Homo sapiens: one gene and its partner. The protein of the gene in region 1 purifies or fractionates together with the protein of each later gene. This does not show direct contact. Each region holds a gene or a part of one and is shown on either strand. Other genes may lie near its edges.

Region 1 (11,509 bases):
TTGTGCTCGATATTACATAGTATCAGGTGGACTAAAAGCCCGAAATCAATGTTAATGCCTGCCCAAGATTGCGATTTGAGCTGCAGAATGCAGTTATAAAATATGCCTATGACTTATAGGCACAACCTGCCTTTCCCCAAGCTCTCATGTGCACTCACTCTCTTTTCAATTATTTATAGTGACATTCTCTCCCTCGGTGCCCATTCACTCTTCTCTTACTCATTGTCCCAACTGGATATGCACATTCACCCCTAACTTCTCTCTGCTTTATTCATTTTTCAAACACATGTTCTTCTCAACACCCTCACTCAAAGATCAAAGATTGAAGATGTGCTTACATCTTTTCTTCTTTTTCTTTTTCTTTTTTTCCAGGAGTCTCGCTCTGTCACCCAGGCTGGAGTGCAGTGGCACGATCTCGGCTCACTGCAACCTCCGCCTGCCGGGTTCAAGCAATGCTCCTGCCTCAGCCTCCGGAGTGGCTGGGACTACAGGTGCACACCACCATTCCCAGCTAATTTTTTTGTATTTTTAGTAGATACGGGGTTTCACCATGCTGGCCAGGCTGGTCTCAAACTCCTGACCTCATGATCAACCTGCCTCGGCCTCCCAAAATGCAGGGATTACAGGCGTGAGCCACGGCACCTGGACCCCAAGATGTCCTTACATCTATGGACACATGCCCTTGATCTTCTGCATCCTGTGTACTTTCCTTCCCCAAACACCCAGTATACAGGGACTTCTGTGGTCGCTGAGCCTGAAATCCCTGCTTCTTATCCTGATACCCCCCAAGGATGGCAGAAGTTTCTGCAACTATGGCGGTGGGGCAGGATGCAGACCTGGGTATGAATAAGGAGGCCCTGGACATCTGGTTGCACCTGCCTGGAAATGTTCAGCTCACAAAGCTTTCCCTCAATGGCCCAAGAGAGCCAGAGAATGGATTTCCCTGCTGCCCACCTGGACACTGCACAAATAAGTCGTGCGCTGTCCAGAGAGCTTATGTCAGTAGCTGCTGCTTAAGGGGGAAAGCGCTCCTGACACAGGGGAGGGCTTGGCTAAGGGAAGCTGCCCGCTTTTTCCCCCAGCTCAGGGTGGGGGAAAGAATTGAGCTGAATATGCACCTATTCAGAAGGGCAAAGAGCCAAAAATAACCAGGAGCAACAGCATTTCATCTGACAGGCCCAGAAATAGAGCTCATTTTGGAGCATGCCTGGGCTACAAACCGAGTGATTCCAAGACCTTCAGCATCCCATAAAAATACACGGAAAAGCTTTCAGTTTACACAGATGCTTCCTTTTCCTCCTTTACCACAACTTCCCAAGGCAAGGGCTCTGTGGCCCATAGGGAAAGAGTCTGCAGAGTCAGGGATTTGAGGCTCAAAGGATGGGGTCTGAGGATGAGGAGATGAGGCTGGTATCTGATGGGATGTTCTATGGAAGGAAGAAGCAAGAAGTAACTGTTAAACATGGAGGATTTGAAACAAGGAGAAACAGAGACAGGAAATAGATTTAGGGAATGTAATGGCTAGGGGGCCACAAGAAAAATGGAAATACTGCCCATAAAACAATGGCATGCAGGATTTGTCTAGATCCCAGAGGTCACCTTTGGCAGAAAGAAAGACCATGGTTTTCCTATTGGGATGGGGAGTGTGTTGCCTGACAGCAATCTTCTATTTTTGCTTTCCTCTCTTCTATTTCTGCTTTCTTCTCTTTTATTTTGATATAAAAGGCAAATGTCACGGTTCATTCATCTTCATTCTGAATAACTGAAATTACAGGAAAGAGGGAGGGGGAAGAAAGGAGAAGACTGCAGAATTACAGAGAAACCTGAGTGTGGAAATAACCATGTTCTAACAGGAAGAGACTGGGGAGACAACAATGAATAAAAAAAGAAAAGAAGGAAGGGAGGGAGGAAGAAAGATGGAGAGGAAAAAATGAAAAAGGAAGATGTTGGATTCAACTTTATTCAGTGAATATGTCAGAAATGTTCTATGTACAAGGCATGGGGGTACAGAGAAACGGTTAAGAAATAACCCCTGCTTTCGGGGGGCATATAGTCTACTGGAGGAGAACAGGCCAACTAACATACCCAATATAAGGCAGAGTTAGCCAGTGGCCACTTAGGATTACAGGCAATGCCTGCTGGGGGCACAGAGAACCGACCCATTGCGTTTCGACCTGAGGCCATGAGGGAAGATTCCCTAAAACTGGCAGCATTTGCCTCGGCCTCAAAGATTTATGTGGGAGGGTAAGTGGATGGAAGGAACACTCTCTACTCCTGCAGAATGCCTTCCTACCCACCTCCTGTAATCTGGAGGTCATTTGTCTCCGCAGGGGCAGATCTCTTTGCCCCAGACATCCTTAGTATATAGAAATGTGGTTACCAACTGCCGACATGGACAGGGCCACTCCAAAGGTAAGTTTTTACTGATCCACAGCAAAATGCAACATATAAAGACAAGACGGAAATAAAATATTCAGATTAAAGAACAGCTTGTTTTTTGTTTTTTTTTTTTTTAAGACAAGGTCTCACTCTGTCGCCCAGGCTGGAGTGCAGTGGTGTGATTAGACCTCAGTACAGCCTTGACCTCCTGAGCTCAAGCGATCCTCCCATCTCAGCTTCCTGAGTAGCTGGGACTGCAGGCACACACCACCACACCTGACTAATTTTTGTATTTTTAGTAGAGACAGGGTTTCACCATGTTGCCCAGCTGGTCACAAACTTCTGGGCTCAAGTGATCCACCCGTGTTGGCCTCCCAAAGTGCTGAGATTACAAGTATGAGCCATGGCACCCAAACCAGTCTTTTCTTAGGATGTTAGGCCCTTCCTAATTTTTTGATGGCAAAAGGCCTTGTCTTTTTAATGAAATGATACTGACAGAAGATAGTATATGCAGTTGGTTTATAAAAACTATTTTTGCTTGGTAAAGTAATAGTTGACCAAGTGCATTGGTCCCCGAGACGTGACTGATCTTAAACCATTTTGGGCCAGGCATGGTGGCTCACGCCTGTAATCCCAGCACTTTGGGACGCCTAGGTGGGTGGATCACGAGGTCAGGAGTTCAAGACCAACCTGGCCAACATGGTGAAACCCCCATCTCTACTAAAAATACAAAAATTAGCTGGGCATGGTGGCAGGTGCCTGTAATCCCAGCTACTCTAGAGGCTTGAGGCAGGAGAATAGCTTAAACCCAGGGGGTGGAGGTTGCAGTAAGCTGAGATCACGCCACTGCACTCCAGCCTGGGCAACACAGTGAGACTCCGTCTCAAAAAGAAAAAAAAAAGAAAAAAAATTTCAGAGTCTCAGAACATCTCACCTGGAATGCTATGATGTGCCACCTAGGCATGCAGATGCAGTCCTTTCTCCAGCCCCTCCCTCCAGGCCTCTGAAGTCTCCTCCTAGGGGCGGGCCATGATGAGCTCAGGACTCTGTGCCTTTGTCCTTTCCCGTGTTGAGGTGTGGAATTGGTCCCTTTCCAAGGGCATGTGATAAACTGACTCACACCAAGGCAGTAATAAGGGAGGCCAATCTCCCCCTGGGGCCTTCGACTTTTAGTGGAGTATTAAAACTTAATTTAAACTGATGAATTGTAATGGTGAGATTTCAAGCCCTTCCATGGGACAATGGGAAGATATATTTCTTTTTAAATAAAGGGCTTTCTTCTGAAATCAGACCACGCCCTTTCAATGACTGACACAAACTGCTGGAGAGACGCAAAAGTAAGAGCTGATTCTGTCTTCTGGATCAAAACGTCCCACTCCCCCGTGAAAAGAAATCTTGACTTTTTCTCTCCCCCTCTCCAACACAGGATGAAGCAGTTAATCCCACCACCTCTAGCTCAGGATGAGAGAGCAACTCACACATCCCTCTTAGAAGACCAAACTCTGGCCGGTTTTCTGCATGCCTGGTGCTCCTTGCAGAAACAGAGCCTTCCTGCCTACCTCTGGAATCCTGGGGCCTCAGGTGGTGCCCAGTCCACAGTAGGAACACAATAGGAGATGAGTGAGTAGGGGAGAAGTGAGCAGTTGGATATGGCAAGTTAGAAACAGTCCAGCCTCCAGTGGGGCACTCTGCTTACCTACACTTAGGTAAACCCAAATCCTCAAAGCTCACAAGGCCTTGAAAACTCCCAATTCCATGAATCCTGATTACAAACAACCCCGAGGAACCATTTAGCTCCCCGAAGACCAACAGAATCTGTGTACAATGTGGGAGGAGAGAAACTCCGGAGCGTGGCCCAGGAAGACAGGTGGCAACCCTAGAAATGCTGCAATGCCTGTTGAAGCCCCTTCCCCCTGAACTGGCCGACAATTTTCCTTCCATATACATTAAAAGCATAGTCTGTATTTTGACCTGATGGAAAAGATATAGACAGGATCTGGGACAAAGCCACCAAATCTTTTGTTCCCTTGGACACTCGATAGAATAAATGTTTTCCACGTCACACAGAAGAATGTTAAGTGCTTTGTTTCTGCAGAAGTGGAACAGAGATAGTGGGAGCATCTGTCAAAACCCCCAAAATGCTTTAATGTGGTGGCAGCTGGCTGGGAGGAGCAGGAGCCCAGTTCCCTAAAAGCCAATAGTTCTGGAAATGGAGGAGGGCTGTTTGAACCAGCGCGTTAACATCACCCAGGAGCTTGTTAGAAAGGTACATTCTCAAGTCCCTCCCAGGACCAACTGAGTCAGAAATTCTAGGGCTGAAGTCCAGGAATCTGTGTTTTAACAATCCCTCCAGGTAATTCTGAAGTTTGAGAACCGGTGGAATAAGGCCAGGGAACTCACACAAGGCCACAGCTCTTAGGTGACCTAAAAAAAAGTGGACGACAGCTGAGGAGCCACCATGCCTGGTGTGGCCAGGCCTGTACTGAAGCAGCTGAGGGCGCGTCCACGCCCGTCAAACCATCCCGGGCACCCCGTCTCACCACCAGCCTCTCCCCGACGTCTGTTGTGACTTGACCTATGCTCGTGGCACAGGGAAAGGGCTGTGGCCTCTCAGGCTCCCAGGCTATTATTAGTTCCAATCCGCACAAATCTACCAGTGCTAAAGGGAAGCTTCTGCGAACTTTGGAAGGTGGATTAACTGTTTCAGAGCAGCAGCTGCGGGCCCAGATAGTTGTCGGAGCCGCTAGACACAGCCAAGCGCTTCCCTGAAAGCCAAGGCCGGCGGCGAGCTGGTGGTCCCGCCGGCCGGAGGCCCCTCCCCGCCAGGCCGCAGAACCCGGGTCGGAGAGCAGCCAGTCTCAACCTGCGTCCCCAAGGCCGAGGATGTGTCCTGGTTTTTTAAAAAGCTGTTTGCGCACTTCCAGGGCCTCACCCCTTTCATTTGGGGCTCCAGTATTACTGTATTGACCTAATTAATTCATTTTTTTCTCAGTCCAAAGTGGAAGCCGGAGCACAGGGATGCAAATCAAATACAAACCCGTCCTGGGTGCCAATACTCTGGACAATTAAAACAAAGAGCGCAGTGGTGGCGGTGGCGGCGGCACCACACAAAACCCTCGGGAAACATCCAGAACGTGCCGCGAACCAGCCGGCAGGGTGGGGCGCAGCCCGGCTGCAAACATGCCAGCAAGGAGGCAGTCCCAACCCCGCAGGTGGACAGGTGGAGGTTGGCAGGGGTCAAAATCCATCCTGAAGGCCTGGGAGCCGGGCAGCTGCGCGGCACAACTCCAGGGGGCACACTCGCCCTGCGCCCTGCGGGAATGGCGCCCCGGCCAAAAAAGCAACCAGACAAAAACCCATTGCACGGGCGGGAACTGGTCTGTGCGACCCGCAAAAGGGGTGGGTGGGAGAGGAAGAATGCGGAAGCGAGGAAGAGGATGGGAAGGGAGAAAGAGGAAAGGGAGGAAAAGGAGAAAGTGAAAAAGAGAGGGGGTTTGGGAGCGCGAGGGGAGAAGGAAGAGGGAGCCGGAGGGAGAGGAGGGGGATCGCAGAGAGCAGGAGCGCGGAAGGGGGGCGGGGGAGGAGCAGAGAGAAAGGGAAAGGGGGGTGCGCCGGGGCCCAGCGACCCGGGCGGGGGGTGGCGGCGGCCAAGGGGCGGGACCCGGGTCGGTGCCCACCTGCGTGGGCGCCCGCTGCTCCGAGGGGTGGAAGCCCGGGGGCCAGAGGGAGCGGCCGGGAGGAGGGCTGGGCAGGGAGGCAGAGGGGAGGGAGGGGACGGGGACGGGGAGGCGGGGAGGAGCCGGCGCTCGGCTGGGGCTGCGGGGGCGGCGACGGCGGGAGCGGCAGTGGCGGCGGCGGCGGGTCCGGAGGTGGCGGCAGGTGGCCCCGCGCGCGGCGGCCGGCCCGGCCGGGGGCGGGCGGGAAGGTGGCGCCTCGGGCGGGGGCCGGTCCCTGCACCAGGTGACCTGTTCCGGCCCGGATCCGGGCGGCCTCGCCATGCAGCGGCGCGGCGCGGGGCTCGGGTGGCCGCGGCAGCAGCAGCAGCAACCCCCGCCGCTCGCGGTCGGCCCCCGGGCCGCAGCCATGGTCCCGAGTGGCGGCGTCCCCCAGGGCCTCGGCGGCCGCTCTGCCTGCGCGCTGCTCCTGCTCTGCTACCTGGTGAGCGCCGGACCCTGCCCGGGTCTTCCCCTCCGCGCGGGGCCCCGGGGACGCGGGTGGGGGCGGCCGGGGACACCCGCCACGCGGGGCGGGGACGCCGCTGCTAGTTTTCTCTCTTCCTCGTCGCTGCGCCCCGGGCGTTCCCGGCACCTGGGATAGGTACCCCGGGCGTGGAGAGGGGCGCTTGGACCGGACTTGCCAAGCTGCTCTCTCGCTCGTGCTCATTCCTTTCCCTCCTGGACTCTCTCTAGACCCGGGTCGGGTTACCCTCGAGACCCCTTCTTGTCCTCGACTCCACCCGGGAGCCTCGCCGCCCGGAGTTCGCTCCCCGCCCCGCCGCGCGCAGTCTCCAGCACCCCCCAACCCCCCACCCCTCCTGGGCTTCCCTCTCAATCTTCTCGCAGCTCCTTTCCTTCCCGTGCCCAACTTCGCCTCTTACTCTCGGCGCCCGCCACCCGCGTCGACCCTCCTTTTAGTTTCCACCGGGTCCTCCCGGCCCGGACAGTTTTCTGCCAACGCACCTCGCATCTCCAGCGCTCTTCAACTCCTCCTTGGTCACTCCAGCCAAGTTGCGGATGCCGGAAAGAAATCTAGTTCTCTGTAACACGCTTACCGCCAGAGTGGTGACTTTAGCTGCGTCTTGAACATTGTCATTTCAGAGAATATGTTTGGCTCATGCATGTCAGTTTGCAATTTGCACACTTCTTGGCTTCTGTTTTAGTCATCAACTAAAGGGCAGTAACCTATTTTTCAAAACCCATTTATTTTAAATACCAGAGTAGCTGAGACCCCTCAGAACAAAGTGGGGAGAAATTTTCTCAGTTCCTTTGAGGGCTTGCTTGCTTCTGTTTTGAGTTCTCCTAAACAATAGTAAATTTACAGAAGGCGACACCCTTCCTGCCCAGAGTAACTTATGTTCCACAATCCTGCAGAAACCTTGGGTTATCTCGCCATATATTACTGTAAATAAATGAAATGGAAAATGCTGAATCATGAAACTGATGTAATAGGAAATTCACAGAATGCCAAAAAAAAAAAAAAAAAGAGCAGTGTCATTGTCCAGAATTCATTTCACTTATGTGGCATTGTCATTATTTGGAGTCTTTCTTTTTGGAAGCTAAAAACTGCTTAGGAGATACTGGCAGAAATTAGAATTTGATTCTGAAGAAATTTGCCACTCAGCCCGTTTCTTTTAACGTTTTTTACTTCTTGAATGTTTCATTTCTTGAAGCAAGAAGGTGTAAAAATGCAAATTATAATTCTGCCTGTGCATCTACCTGTTGAGCAATCCGTGCTTTTACTCATATTTCAGAATTAGCCAATATCAAATTGTGTGGTTGGGCTTACTTCATATTTTCATAAGAAGTTGTCAGTTAACATGAATGATATTTTTTTGCCCAAGAGATATTATTATTTAATATTTATGCCACAAGGTTACAACACACAGGCTCATAAATAAAACTGCCATAACAAATGACAAGATTTCAGTTTAAACAGATGATCCCTGTACACAGGGCCCTGCTGGCTACCCACAGAAGCAGAAGTGATGTAGTAGAGTGTTGCGTGAAACATTCATATACAAATGGGCCGGGCCGAAAAGTTCCACGTGGACATCTCAAGACCTGGCAAGGAGGGGGACTACTTCTGGACAGTTCAGGAAGTCAGAGTCAGGAGAGCAAAGCCTAAGGGCCTAAGTGGACTCTGGAAACAGAGACAGATAATGATGGAGCAAGTATTCCTGTGAAAGTTCTGTGTACACCAAGGGGGATTAAGAGAACAGAGGGAAAAATGATGCCATGGATAGACTCAAGTGAGATAGTGAAGGAGTGAGGAAGGGCTCCGGAAAGAGTAATTTTAGAAAATACTGTGATGTGGAAAATAACTAGAGCATGGATGAATGTCTTGGCAGATGGGGAAGGAATGGATTTGGGGACCTCATGGTGGGGGGAAATGTCAGTGCTTCCTGCCTTTGTATGCTTCCTTCAGATGGACTTCTGATACGCTTACTGTACAAGACAGACTTTGATAAACAAGAGAGCCATTTTGCAAAGGACACAAAAGGCCGACTTAAAAGGTAGTCTCCACATTTTGTTCTGAAGATCTAGCCGTTTACTAGGGATGTTGCTCTTGGGTCTACACTACCCAAGATACTACTGAAGGCAAGGCTTCTTGATCTTGGAGAAGCTTGGTGTGAGAATTGGGGAAAATGTAAATATCCATATGAAACACTTGAAAAACATAAAACAATAGAGAGAAAACGCAAATGTATAATTGTGTGCATTTTGCTCAATCAAGGAATGCTACCTGGAGGAAGTGGTTGGTCAGGGGGATGGGGCTGGGCAGGTGCAGGGTAGAGATGGAGCAGAATAGCTGGGCAGGATCCCAGGAATATGTAGACTCTAGAGGAGGAAAGGTCTTTCATAATTTGAAAGCCTACATGGTAATAACGATAGCTTACATTGTGCTATACATTGTGCTAAATCGTTTATAGGCATTATCCAGTATTTATCTTAGCAACAGCCCTCTGAGGTAGGAGCTACTATAATCTCCATTTAGATGAGATAACAGAGACTCAGAGAGGTTAAGTTAGTTGCCCCAGGCCATACAGTCTGAGATTGAAACCCAAATCTGTCTCCCTCCAGAGCCCCAGCTCTAAACCACACTAGCTTATTGTCTTCTGGATTTTGCTGCTTGTAACTCATTCTTCATCGATGTACGGGCCATTAGCAGAGCTCTAGCAATTAGCAGCTACTGTGCAATTGGCCAGGATGTGAGGTCATGTCTAAAGTAATCTAAAATATACAAAGCAGGAAGCGCAGGCCACAGAATAGAAGCAGGATGTTAAAGTGGGGAAGAAAGGTAAAGCCAGAAAATATTTGCCATCGTTAATGAAGAGATAAAGGTTTGGGGTTTTTATGTAGTCCAGAGGCAGCTGGTAGAGTTTAGCATTTGAGTTTGGATGAATGTGCATACAAGTGTACAGCAAATGTGCCTTGGAATGCATTCCAAAGCCAAATTGCCTATGATTTGGGGACCAGTTCCTGTTTTGTGTTATCTTCACCTATTTGCCTGTTCACAAGGGCTGGAGGTTGAGAGCAGCTTCTGAATAGATGCCTTTAAGCACCTGCCCTCACAGGGAGCATGCTTCCTGGAGTCAGGGTCCTGAGGAGTGGGTGCCTTCCGTCTCCATAGGCTGGGACGGAGTAACCTTCAGTATCAGCTCAAAAAGAGTACTGTGTCTGTAGCTAGGATACTGCCAAAGCATGAATAATTGTGATGAGGGCTGAAAGATAAGTCACGGAACGATGCCAAACAGATTTCTGAAAAGATGATCCCTGGTTCCAGTGGCTGCCAGAAAATTCTGAGGTCACCAAAGGCCAAGATGCAGAGAGCCTCCTCAGAGAGGGAGAGGGCCTCGAAAGCAAAAGATAATGAAATTGCTTCCACTGAGGTCGCGGGTGCTGAGTACTGTGCCCCACGCAGAACTTTCCCTGCCCAACGGGCCTTCTTGCTATTTTCTTACACCATTAACTCTTACCTTCTTCCAACTTGGCTAGAACCAGCCTGAGGCTGCCCCAGCTCTCTATCTGTGATAATGGCACTTCCAGAAAACAATTTTGTTCGTTCTAAGCTCTGGTCTCCAAAGTATAATATTTTCTTATATGAAAAGATAAATCTCAGGATGGCCAGTATTGATGTCAGCTGTCAGTTGAAATGTTCGGAGTGGATAGCTGCACTTGTTAGACAATCAGACTGAGGACAAAGAAGTAAGAGGACATTAACAGCACAGAGGCTGGGCGCGGTGTCTTACGCCTGTAATCACAGCACTTTGGGAGGCCGAAGCAGGCGGATCACGAGGTCAGGAGATCGAGACCATCCTGGCCAACATGGTGAAACCCCATCTCTACTAATAATACAAAAATTAGCTGGGTGTGGTGGCGTGCACCTATAATCCCAGCTACTTGGGAGGCTGAGACAGGAGAATTGCTTGAACCCAGGAGGGAGAGGTTACAGTGAGCTGAGATCGCGCCGCTGCACTCCAGCCTGGCGACAGAGTGAGACTCTGTCTCAAAACAAACAAACAAACAAACAAACAAAAAAATCAAAAAAAACAAAAACAAAACAACAACAACAAAAAAACAGAACAGATACATGTGGGACAGTTAGCAGACAGCGGCTGTGACAGAGCCTTGTACAGGATTCCCTGTAAGTGGCCACACACCCTCGGTCATCCATCTAAGAGTATTCATTAACCCCTCACTATGTGTGCAATGCAGAGCATGAGAAGATCAAAACGAGGTAAAGAGATCTGCAGTTATCTAGCTTGAGGGAGAGGTATTATGAATATTTGAAAATAGAGATCATCCCCAAACCTCACATCAACCAATAGCTTCCATATTCATCCTGACTGGAGCTCCTAAAATTTCCCAAGCCATGGTGTTGGCCTCTTGCCTTCTATTTCTTCTGGCTGCCTGTTGGCAAAAGCGTCAGAGCTAGAGGACAGGTAGGAGAGAATAACCCAGGCAATTCGCTGGAAACATGGATAGACTGGAGTAGACCGTAAATAGCCTAAAGTGAATTCAGTTACCCTGTTTAATGGCTCATGCCATTCCCCTGAGAAAGGAGCCGAGGGGCAGGAGGCGTGTTCGGCCCATGAGGAATGGCTGATGGGATTCTGCCTTGGCAGGCCTTGTTTCCAGTCTCTACCTGGAGAAGGGCTTAGTTATACTGGGGAGCTGGCTGAGTCTGGTGTTTGTGTGTTTGTGGTTAAGGCAATATCTGTCTCCTCCAAACTCAAGGCATGCCGGCATAATGGCATTTTAGCCCCAACCCTTTCAAGATGGGAATAAGGAAAGTCATGAGATTCCCCAACCCTGTAGCCAGAAAGCGGTGACAGGTGTATAAAGGCAAGGACGTGAGTTGAGGGCATCATCTTTGGGTGTTGTTAGAAGACAAGAGGCACACCTTCCCT
Region 2 (11,398 bases), on another chromosome or scaffold:
TGACCGGGTCAGAAAGTCCTGATGGAAATCCACCAGCGCTGGGCAGGCCCCTCCTCCTCCAGGGAGCTTGTCCTTGCCTAATTTTTCTTCGTCCTGATGAGAACAAAAAAGAGAGAGAGAAGAAAAGAAAAACCACAAACTTCCTTTGAAAACCAGCTTGTAGTCAGGGCCCGGAGCGCATGCCATAGACTCGGCGACTCAGGAATCCTGAAGACTCTCTGAGCGACCTGGAGCACCTTGGCTGTGTCCCTGCCTGCCTTCACCCTCCTCCAGTGCCCCCAGTACTGGGCGTGAGTCCGGAAGTGGCCACAACCCAGCCTGGACCGTCGCTTATAAAGCTGTGTAAACCTGTATAAGCTCAGGCGTTGACAGCTGGAAGGCAGCTGGCACTGGCAGCCCCCTTCATTGCACCTATCTCCCCCATCTCATTGCCACGGCTGAACCCTCCTTCTCAATCTTGGAACAGCACCCCCTTCTTTAAGGTAAAAACTTTATTTTAATCATCTTCTTCACCTCTTCTCCCACCCTTCTCTATTTCCTCTCCAGCTTTGGGGAGCTGACACCTGCTGTCCTTCCACCTTTGGTCTGCAAGTCTGGATTGCTTAGAGGAGCTAAGTCAGGAGAGACATGTAAAGGGGATGCTGCTTGGTCCTCCTCCTTTTAATGAAAGCACGAAACCTTCCCCCTCTCCTTGTGAGCAAGTATACAGGGCACTGTGGCCATGGTTGACATATTCTGAGATGAAAATCTAAACTATTGATTGCACAAAGACATAGGTCAGACTAAGAAGGAGATTGGTGTGAGACAGTAAGGGAACTGTTCCTACAGAGAAGGAGTGTCTTCTTGAAGCTACATACCTGTTTTACGTGCTTCTTCCAACTTTCGGCTCTCTACTGCCATTGATTAGGGAGGAGCCAGGATTATTTTAACTCCCTCACTCACCACCATAATTCCAGCTGGAGAGAAAGTGTAGGATTTGACGAGCTAAGAAAGAGGAGGAAAAGAATGAAACTTTGATTTATCTGACTATCCTCTCCCTCATTCTTTCCTACTCTGAAATACTCCATGCCCTCCCCAGCAGGATTGGACGTTGTAGAGTAGAAAGCCTCCATTACATTTCCTGCCCCTGCCTCTTAAGACTTAGCCCATTTAGCTCTGCCCAGTTCCTCTGAGACCCCACTCCCTCAGGTGTCCACTCCTGGGTTCCTTTGGCTCACCTCTCCAGCCAGCTAGCTGCCCAACCCCCACTTCATCATTGATCATTTCTGGCACTGGAGAGAAAATATAAAAAATAAGGCCTGCTTTTCTTTTTTTTTTTTCTTTTTTTCTTTTTTTTTTTGGAGGCAAGAGTCTCACTCTTGTCACCCAGGCTGGAGTGCAGAGGCACAATCTTGGCTTACTGCAACCTCCACCTCCGGGGTTCAAGCAATTCTCCTGCCTCAGCCTCCTGAGTAGCTGGGATTACAGGTGCCCGCCACCGTGCCCGGCTAATTTTTGTATTTTTAGTAGAGATGGGGTTTCGCCATGTTAGCCAGGCCGATCTTGAGCTCCTGACCTCAGGTGATCCGCCCGCCTCGGCCTCTCAAAGTGCTGGGATACAGGTGTGAGGCACTGTGCCCGGCCAAGGCCTGCTTTTCTTCAAGCTTTTTCACTTTTCCAGGCTCTGGCATCTGCTTTGAGGTTCACCCTAAGTGTCATTTAAGGGGAGAAGGAAAGGAGAGAGAGAAAGAGAGAGAAAAAAAAGCATAAGGCCTGCAGGCAATTTTTGCTACTCTGATTCTAAATTAACAACACGTAAATGATATGCAGCTAGCATAAACATATGTGAATCAAGAGGATAATCAATTTGAGTGACTAGGCTTATTTTGTTTCAGTAACTTTAATGTTCCTCAACCTCATCTCCCAGGCCTTCCCCTAGCCCCAAATTCCTGTAGGTTTACAAGAAGGAAGCAGTCTCAGGCTGGGAGGAGGGTGGAGAAAAGACAAGATTTCTAACTAGTTTAATTTATTTTATTTTATTTTATTTTATTTTATTTTATTTTATTTTATTTTATTTTATTTTTGAGATGGAGTTTCGCTCTGTCACCCAGGCTGTAGTGCAGTGTCACCATCTCAGCTCACTGCAACCCCCTGCCTCCCAGGTTCAAGCAATTCTCCCACCTCAGCCTCCCGAGCAGCTGTGACTACAGGCACGTGCCAACACACCTGGCTAATTTTTGTACTTTCAATACAGACAGCGTTTTGCCATGTTAGCCAGGATGGTCTCGATCTCCTGACCTCAAGTAATCTGCCCGCCTCAGCCTCTCAAAGTGCTGGGATTACAGGCGTGAGCCACCGCGCCTGGCCCCTAACTAGTTTAATTTCTCCCTGTTTCTCTCCCTGATAAAGAGTGGGAGGGGAGCAAGGAGATTGAAGGGAGATGTTTTCCAAAGGGCAGGATTTGTGGTTTTTTATTATTTATACCCACAGTATTAGTTAAATGTCTATCTGTGCTTGCCTCAATGTGCCTCCAGTGCTGATAGAGAACAGGTTAAACAGGTCCGGTGTTCACATCTAAAATGACCTGGAGAGGACTGGGCACGGTGGCTCATGCCTGTAATCCCAGCACTTTGGGAGGCCAAGGTGGGAGGATCACCTGAGGTCGGAAGTTCAAGACCAGCCTGACCAACATGGAGAAACTCCATCTCTACTAAAAAATACAAAATTAGCTGGGCATGGTGTTGCATGCCTGTAATCCCAGCTACTCGGGAGGCTGAGGCAGGAGAATCACTTGAACCCAGGAGGCAGAGGTTGCAGTGAGCCGAGGTCGCACCATTGCACTCCAACCTAGGCAACAAGAGCAAAACTCTGTCTCAAAAAAATAAAAATAAATAAATAAAACCACTTGGATGGGAATAGACATAAAACTTTAGGTAGGTGAATGTACAGGAAGTATTGTTATGTAAATTAATAATCAGCATTTTCATATTTCATAGAAATAGCAGGCAAGAGAGTACCTCTGGGTTTAGGTAGTTTCTGGGGAAAAAAAATGAACTGAGGAAAAGTTGCTGTCTCAATGCTAGCTGTCAAGAGATGCTTACTGGGTCCAGGCACCGTGGCTCATGCCTGTAATCCCAGTCCTTTGGCAGGCTGAGGAGGGCGGATTGCTTGGGCCCCCAGGAGTTAAGACCAGCCTAGGCAACAAAGCAAGACCCTGTCTCAGTTTAATTAAAAGAAATTTGATATCTTTATTAATTTTTTTTAAAGAGAAGCTTACTGGAAGAACTTGTGGGGAGTGCTTTTTGTGCCCCTAATCTGAAGTTATTTATCAAAACCAGTCTCTGATTCCAGCCCCCACCACCTACATTTCCCCTCCCAGCTTACAGGAAACCCCTCCCAAGGCCTTTATACTGTGGTTTGGGATTGTGTAAGGTTCAGTAGAGCCCTTTGAGGTGGAAGACTTCCCCTTCCTCACCAGCATTTCACCTTTAGGGGCATGAAACTGACTCTCTGTGCCTCCTCCATTCTTCACCCCAAGTACTATGTGACTTAATCTTTTTATCCTTGGGTGAGGCAGAGAGAAGGTATCCCTAAACATACAAGCACTGTGTATTCTTAGTATGTTGTGTGAAGGGGCAGGGTGTGGGGTAGGGCAGAGGAATTATCTCTGTCATGGCTATGAGGGGGTTACTGATGTGATGCCTATTAGAGTAAGCTAAAGATCATCATATTAATAACCATTAGCGTAGATTTAACATTTCTTTCTCCACCTCTTATCCTTCTTTCTCCTTTGTGCTCTCCCTTTCTCTCTGTCTTTCCTCCCTTCCCTGTCATGATCTGTTTCAGGGAAGCTGACTCCACCCATGTGTTCAATCCCACCAGTCTTCCCTCCCAAGTCTGGAAGCCCCACGACCTCTTGGTCTCATCTGGTCACAGCAAGTTAGAGGTGGAAAGAGCTCAGCACGGGGCCCTTCTGTTTACACATATACTGCCCATAGCCAGGAGTTACTGCACAAACACTAGCCAGCCTTCTACACTACATTCCTTTTCCAAGACTTTTCTGGGTTAGTTTGCTTTCCAGCCCACTGATTTCCTTCTTATTGGACAGGTCACTCTTTTGCATCCCAAGCCTGGCTTAGGCAAGTCCCTGAGGTTAGTAAACACCTTCAGTGCCCCTCAGCCAAGTCCCTTTTGACCATGGAATACCATCAGCCTGAGGATCCAGCCCCTGGTAAGGCCGGGACTGCAGAAGCAGTCATCCCTGAAAACCATGAGGTTCTGGCAGGCCCAGATGAGCACCCTCAGGACACAGATGCAAGAGATGCTGATGGGGAGGCTAGAGAACGGGAGCCAGCAGACCAAGCTTTGCTGCCTAGCCAGTGTGGGGACAACCTTGAGTCCCCTCTGCCTGAAGCTAGCTCAGCTCCACCGGGGCCAACCCTTGGGACACTGCCTGAAGTAGAGACAATAAGGGCATGCTCCATGCCCCAGGAGCTTCCTCAGTCCCCCAGGACCCGACAGCCTGAGCCAGATTTCTACTGTGTCAAGTGGATCCCTTGGAAAGGAGAACAGACACCCATCATCACCCAGAGCACTAACGGCCCTTGCCCTCTCCTTGCCATCATGAACATCCTCTTTCTTCAGTGGAAGGTAAGAGAACATGCAGTTAGGGGTGCAAAAAATATCAGGGAGTACTCTTCCCTGACTTACTTCCTTGATCATCCTGATGTCCTCAAACTAGTCAAAACTTTTCAGATTGTTCTCCCTATTTCTCCAGCTTGAGCAAATGAGATAAGATGTTCCTAAAAACAAAGAAAAAAAAAAAAGAGGAAGATCTGTCCTACCCCTGTATCTCCTACTCCCTAGCAAATGCACATGCCTTGCAAGATTTCACATTCATTCCCTTGTGCCAGTTGCAAGCCTTTTTTCCTACCCCACCCTACTACTGGAGCTCCCCCTTGCCTTTCCATGGGTTCTTCCTTCAGTGCTCTTTGGAGGAAAGCACACACGTGATCACCCCTTCTGCCTCCAGGTGAAGCTCCCCCCGCAGAAGGAAGTGATCACATCGGATGAGCTCATGGCCCATCTTGGTGAGTGACTGGGCGTTGAAGAGGAATTACCCAAGGGGCTCCAGAGCTATCCACTCAGCCAGAAATCCAGACTATTCAGGGATCTCCATTTGGGGGTTCTGATACAGCAGGGAGGGTAAGGGTCTATGGGGCTTCTCTGCAAGGCTGGAGAATGAAAAGCAAAGGCGTCGGGAGTCCTGGGTTGTAACACCAATTCTGCCCTTAGCTTTTGTATCTGACCCTGGGTGGGCCGTTCACCTTTATGAGGCTGTCGCCTCCTCTGAGAAATGAAGAGTCTGGATTAGACTCTAAGTATTTTCCAGCTCTGAAAATCTGTGTTCTGTGACATTACCCGCATTCTCCAGGAGAAGAGGAAACTTAGCTTTTGGGATGATTGGTGGGGTAAGCTGATAAGGGGCCCTGTCTTGTAGGAAACTGCCTCCTGTCCATCAAGCCCCAGGAGAAGTCAGAGGGACTTCAGCTTAATTTTCAGCAGGTGAGGCAAAAGGTCTGCAGGCATAGGGGTTTGCAGGTTTGTAAGGGGACATCTTGTAATACTAAGATAAGCTTTTGTTGCTTCTTCAGAGGTTTCCTTGAACCATGATTTCATTCTGCAGGAGTCAGAGGAGAGTTTATCTTTGTCCTAGAAAATATGTTCATTGGCCGGGTGCTCACACCTGTAATCCCAGCACTTTGAGATGCCAAAGCGGGAGGATCACTTGAGGCCAGGAGTTCGAGGCCAGCCTGGGCAACATAATAATACCCCTGTCTCTAAAAAAAACCATTTTTTTTTTCAAGAATTAGCCAGGTATGGCGGTGCGTGCCTGTAGTCCCAGCTACTCAGGAGGCTGAGGTGGGAGGGTCACTTGAAACCAAGAGTTTGAGGCTGCAGTGAGCTAGGATCACACCACTGCACTCCAGCCTGGATGAAAGAATTAGACTTAGACTCTCAAAGAAAAACAATGTTCATTTATATAAGATAGAGAAGGGTTGAGGCAAGGGAGAAATGGAGTGGCTTGTAAGAGAATCAGGGAAGAAGAGCAGCAAGGTTAATTTTTAATTTCTGCAGGTGGGAGTGGAGTGGTGGGAGAGAAGGCTAGAATCTCCATCATTTTTTTTTCTACCCCCAGAATGTGGATGATGCAATGACAGTGCTGCCTAAACTGGCCACAGGTCTGGATGTCAATGTGCGATTCACAGGCGTCTCTGATTTTGAGTATACACCCGAGTGCAGTGTCTTTGACCTGCTAGGCATACCTCTGTACCATGGCTGGCTTGTTGATCCACAGGTGAGGGTGGGAGGGCCCACTGGGACCTTATCCAGCTCAAGCTGACATGAGAGAGGCAAATTTTTGTCGGGTAGAGGTTAGGGAGTTAGGGGTTAGATTGGCTTGGGAGGGAAATAGTGTTTAGAGACTGGACCCAGTACAGAATTCCTTGAATTTTAATCTATTTTGGGGGTAACATGCAAATACAAGCAAACTACATGCAAATAGGTCAGTTCTTTAGACATCAAAAATTCAGGAAGCAGATGGGTTTGGTGGCACATGCCTGTATTCCCAGCTACTTGGGAGGAGTTCGAGGCCAGTCTGGGCAACATAGCAACCCTATGATGAATGGTTCCTGAAATTTTTTTCTTTTTTGAGAGACCAAAAAAAAAAAGTGTTTAGGAACCATTCATCACAGGGTTGTAGTCCTTGTGAGCTTTGTTCATTTCCTTCCTTAAAAAAGAAAAAAAAATCCCAATTTTTTTGGTATCCCACATCCCACTACCCAAGCAGAGTCCTGAGGCTGTGCGTGCAGTTGGGAAACTGAGTTACAACCAGCTGGTGGAGAGGATCATCACCTGCAAACACTCCAGTGACACCAACCTCGTGACAGAAGGTGACATTCCTCCCCTTCTCATGGATAGTATGTGGAGGGAATGACAGCTACTTAGGCTTATTTTTTATTGGGTGTCATCTCCTACCACATCCCACTAGATATAAGCTTCACAAGAAGGAGCTTGGGGAATTTCTGTTTAGTTCATTGAGGTATCCCCAGTGCCTGGCACAAGGTAGCTGCTCTATTATAAGTATTTGTTAAGTGAATGAATACAGCCAGGTTTCAAGAAAGGGACGTCAGAAGGTGGGACTGACCCCCCGGGGCTTTTGACAGGGGCTCTCTGGATGGTCCTTCCTGTTGTGGACCTTGAATTTAAGCCAAGTTTCCCCCGACTCGTCCCTTTCTGGCAGGCCTGATTGCAGAGCAGTTCCTGGAGACCACCGCGGCCCAGCTGACCTACCACGGACTGTGTGAGCTGACAGCAGCTGCTAAGGAGGGTGAACTTAGCGTCTTTTTCCGAAACAACCACTTTAGCACCATGACTAAGCATAAGGTAATGCGAGTTTGGGGGTGGCGTGCTGCGGTGCTGTCATTTCCTGGTGCCTTTTTCTCGTGGGTCCAGCTGGGATCAGCTAGATTAAGCCGTGGTAGCAAGTGACCCCTCAAATCCCTGTGGTTTACCACAACAAAGGTTCATTTCCCGCTCCTGGTGCGTGTCCACTGTGGACTGGCTACGGTTCTGTCCCACACCATCTTCACTCTGGGACCCAGCTGACAAAAGATCCTTTATCTGGAATATATGTGGGAACAGAGAGAGAGAGGGGCACTGTGCACTCATGCTTAGAGCTTCTGTTTGGAAATGACACATGTCATTTCTGCTCACATCTTCTGGCCAGAGCAAGCCATAAGGGATAAGCCTGCCGTCGATGGGACAGGAAAGTATGATCCTCCCCTAGGAGGGGGCAGTGGAATTTTTAAACAATGCTGGTCTTCAAAAGTTAGAAACTGCCAAAGCTCTCTAGGATTTGAGCAGCAGAGGGAGGGGTCTCTGGTTCTCAAAGGATTTATCCTAAGAGCCATCAGGCAAGCCCAGAGAACAATGGGAAATGGGGGGAGCAGGGTCTTATGTGGCATCTCAGCCCCAACGACTCCATGCCACGCTTAGCCAGAATGACCACCGTGCTCACACCCAACTGGACATACACTCAGACATCCCTTTCTTCCCCCCAAGGCCACACATATTTGTAAAAGGTCCGCATGCTCAGGGTCCGGGTGCGGTGGCTCATGCCTGTAATCCCAGCACTTTGGGAGGCCGAGGCGGGCAGATCATGAGGTCAGGAGATCGAGGCCATCCTGGCTAACACGGTGAAACCCCGTCTCTACTAAAAAAATACCAAACATTAGCCAGGCATGGTGGCGGGTGCCTGTAGTCCCAGCTACTTGGGAGGCTGAGGCAGGAGAATGGTGTGAACCTGGGAGGCAGAGCTTGCGGTGAGCAGAGATTGTGCCACTGCACTCCAGCCTGGATGACAGAGCGAGACTCCATCTCCAAGAAAAAAAAAGTCCACATGCTCATACCGAGATTTCTGGCAGTGAACTGCCTCCGTATCAACTGTCCCCCCAATGAGCTCTGTTCTTTTCTTTGTAGAGTCACTTATACCTACTGGTCACTGACCAGGGCTTTCTACAGGAGGAGCAAGTCGTATGGGAGAGCCTGCACAATGTGGATGGAGACAGCTGCTTTTGTGACTCTGACTTTCACCTGAGTCATTCCCTGGGCAAGGGGCCTGGAGCAGAAGGTGGGAGTGGCTCCCCAGAAACGCAGCTGCAGGTAGACCAGGTGTGTAGGGCACTTAGGAAAAGTGCAGAGAGCACATGTGCCTCAGAGAGCTTTTTACTGCATACATTTTAACTGCTAGAGGCCATGTGAACCCATGCCTCTCTCTCTGGGTTACCTCAGACCGTCTCCTCACTTGGTGTGTATTCTCTGGCACCACAGATAATGCATTTGGCTGTGTGTGCTGCTCTGTGGGGAGAAAGAGCTAGAGAATTTGAGGGATGTGGGAAAACTGATTTGGAAACCTTGCCTGAATAGCCACGGCTCTGGGCCTCAGCCCACTGCACAACTCTTGTTCTCCCCAGGACTACCTGATTGCTCTGTCCCTGCAGCAGCAACAGCCACGAGGCCCGCTGGGGCTTACCGACTTGGAGCTGGCCCAGCAGCTTCAGCAAGAGGAGTATCAACAGCAGCAGGCAGCGCAGCCAGTGCGGATGCGGACGCGGGTCCTGTCACTGCAGGTGGGCTGCTGCCTGGGCGCCCACACTCCCGGTTTCCACCTCATGCTTTGCCGGGTCCAGAACACCTGTTATTCCTGCACTGGTCTCTTCAAGGTTTCTTCTCTCAGAGTCCTTCCCCTGCCTGTCCCTCTCCCCTGGAGCCCCTTCCTGTCTTCCTCTCCCTACTCTCTGTCCCAATCCTGACACCCCTTCTTCTAGAATCTCTTCTTGTGCTCTTCCAAGGAAGTTCAGTGACCAATTGTTAAATCCGATACAGGGGAGAGGAGCCACATCTGGACGCCCAGCCGGGGAGCGTCGGCAGAGGCCGAAGCACGAGTCAGACTGCATTCTGCTGTAGCTCTGCCCCAGTGCCAGGCTGGCCTGCCCCTTCTTCCAGAGGCTATGGCTAGTTGGCTTGCTCCCCCGCCTCCACCCCTGAGATGTGCTGGATAACTTATTTATGGACTGTTGGGGATGAGAGCAGGCAACAAATGCCAAGGTCAGACTTGGTAATGTCCTTGACCTCACGTGCTGCTGCCTTCTCTGCCTCCCATCCAGGGCAACACTAGGATTGGTGGGTTTCTGGTTCTCAACTCCCGGTCCCTGAATAGTCACACGTATGTACAGACTGAGGCTCTGGGGTGAGGTCCCTATCCAGAATGCATCTCTTCTGCTTCCCATCCCTGCTGCCTGGATGCTCCTGATCACCTAGGCAGGCCTGTCTCCAGTTGTTTCAGAGCTTAATTTGGGTTTCTATCTCTTATTTGTAATGCCTTCCTGGGGTTTGGAAATAAAACTTCTGGCCGGGCACGGTGGCTCACTCCTGTAATCTCAACAATTTGAGAGGCCAAGGTGGGCGGATCACCTGAGGTTAGGAGTTCGAGACCAGCCTGCCCAAAAAGGTGAAACCCCGTCTCTACTAAAAATACAAGAAATTAGCTGGGCGTCATGGTGGGCGCCTGTAATCCCAGCTACTCGGGAGGCTGAGGCAGGAGAATCACTTGAACCTGGGAGGTGAAAGTTGCAGTGAGCCGAGATCGCACCATTGCACTCCAGCCTGGGCGACAAGAGCAAAACTGTCTAAAAAAAAAAAAAACCTTCTTTCCTGAGATCTGTTGTTTGCCTTACCCTGAAGCAATAGGGTTAAGTATTTGACCCAATTGAAGAATGCAAAAAGCGGGAGGTGGGTCAGAGGCAGGAAGGTGGTTACCTGTCATTTCTTTTTTTCTTTTTTTTTTTTTTTTGAGATGGAGCCTCGCTGTATTGCCCAGGCTGGAGTGCAGTGGTGCAATCTGAGCTCACTGCAACCTCCGCCTCCCGGATTCAAGCGATTCTCCTACCTCAGCCTCCTGAGTAGCTGGGACTACAGGCATGCGCCACTGCGCCCAGCTAATTTTTGTATTTTTAGTAGAGACGGTTTCGCCACTTTGGTCAGGCTAGTCTTGAATTCCTGACCTCAAGTAATCCGCCTGCCTTGGCCTCCCGAAGTGCTGGAATTACAGGCGTGAGCCACTGCGCCCAGCTACCTGTCATTTCTAATATAGCCTGCAGGGGGAACCAAAGCCTGACTTTTTGTTTTTGTTTCTGTTTTTGTTTTTGTTTTCTATGGGAAATAGTGCTCTCCTGGGAGGTGGGTTTCCAAATCTCTGCTTGGACACATGAATTTGAGGGTTGTGCTCTCCACTAACCCAAGAATTCCCATGCTGGGGAGGGTAGCTTGGCCCTCCGCTTGCTTCCCAGTTCATACAGATGGTCCTTTGCTCCCTCTATTTCTCACCTTGTTCTAATGCCTGTTTCTCAATTATTTTGCCTGAAGTTTCCTGGAGAATGAGGGTGAGGGGAGACCTGGAGTGGGAGACCTGGGTGTGGATTACTGTAGCACTAAGGCAAAACAGGATTCCTGCGGAATAGCCAAGTGCACATCAAAGGCACTTCCAACTCCAGTGCCTCTTCCCGGTCCATGTCCTGCTCCACCCAACCTTCAATCAGGGAACACAAACAACAGCGAAGTTTGCCAAAAGAATTCGAGTATCAGTGAGATGTTCTGGCCAGGGTACAGGAGGGATGAGTGAGGCAGAAACTATCAAAGAAAACTCATTTCCCCACACCCAAGAAGGAGCTGGATGACCCAGGTACAGATATAATTTTGAGATGGGAAAATTAAGGGATTTTAAAGAAACAGTTCCAGCCTCAACAAGAAGCTAGAGAATGTGGTGCTCAGTGAGGGGTTATCCTACTTGGAGGCCCAG

What was found.
Region 2: the proteins of SEL1L3 (region 1) and MINDY1 purify together in Homo sapiens (affinity purification with mass spectrometry; 2 studies listed by BioGRID and IntAct, with this or other methods). This does not show direct contact.

Annotation. Positions count from the first base shown.
Region 1 is NC_000004.12:25,857,703-25,869,211, reverse strand, and holds the start of SEL1L3 (protein sel-1 homolog 3), read left to right. Parts: upstream 1-6,223; 5' UTR 6,224-6,375; coding exon 6,376-6,537; intron 6,538-7,058; exon of another isoform or gene 7,059-8,085; intron 8,086-11,509.
Region 2 is NC_000001.11:150,995,396-151,006,793, reverse strand, and holds the end of MINDY1 (ubiquitin carboxyl-terminal hydrolase MINDY-1), read left to right. Parts: 5' UTR 1-482; intron 483-488; exon of another isoform or gene 489-638; coding exon of another isoform or gene 639-693; intron 694-3,825; exon of another isoform or gene 3,826-4,087; coding exon of another isoform or gene 4,088-4,176; coding exon 4,177-4,629; intron 4,630-4,964; exon of another isoform or gene 4,965-5,011; coding exon 5,012-5,069; intron 5,070-5,479; coding exon 5,480-5,544; intron 5,545-6,178; coding exon 6,179-6,337; intron 6,338-6,826; coding exon of another isoform or gene 6,827-6,829; coding exon 6,830-6,932; intron 6,933-7,282; coding exon 7,283-7,425; intron 7,426-8,520; coding exon 8,521-8,712; intron 8,713-9,014; coding exon 9,015-9,170; intron 9,171-9,426; coding exon 9,427-9,507; 3' UTR 9,508-9,959; downstream 9,960-11,398. UniProt on the Homo sapiens protein: Hydrolase that can specifically remove 'Lys-48'-linked conjugated ubiquitin from proteins. Has exodeubiquitinase activity and has a preference for long polyubiquitin chains. May play a regulatory role at the level of protein turnover.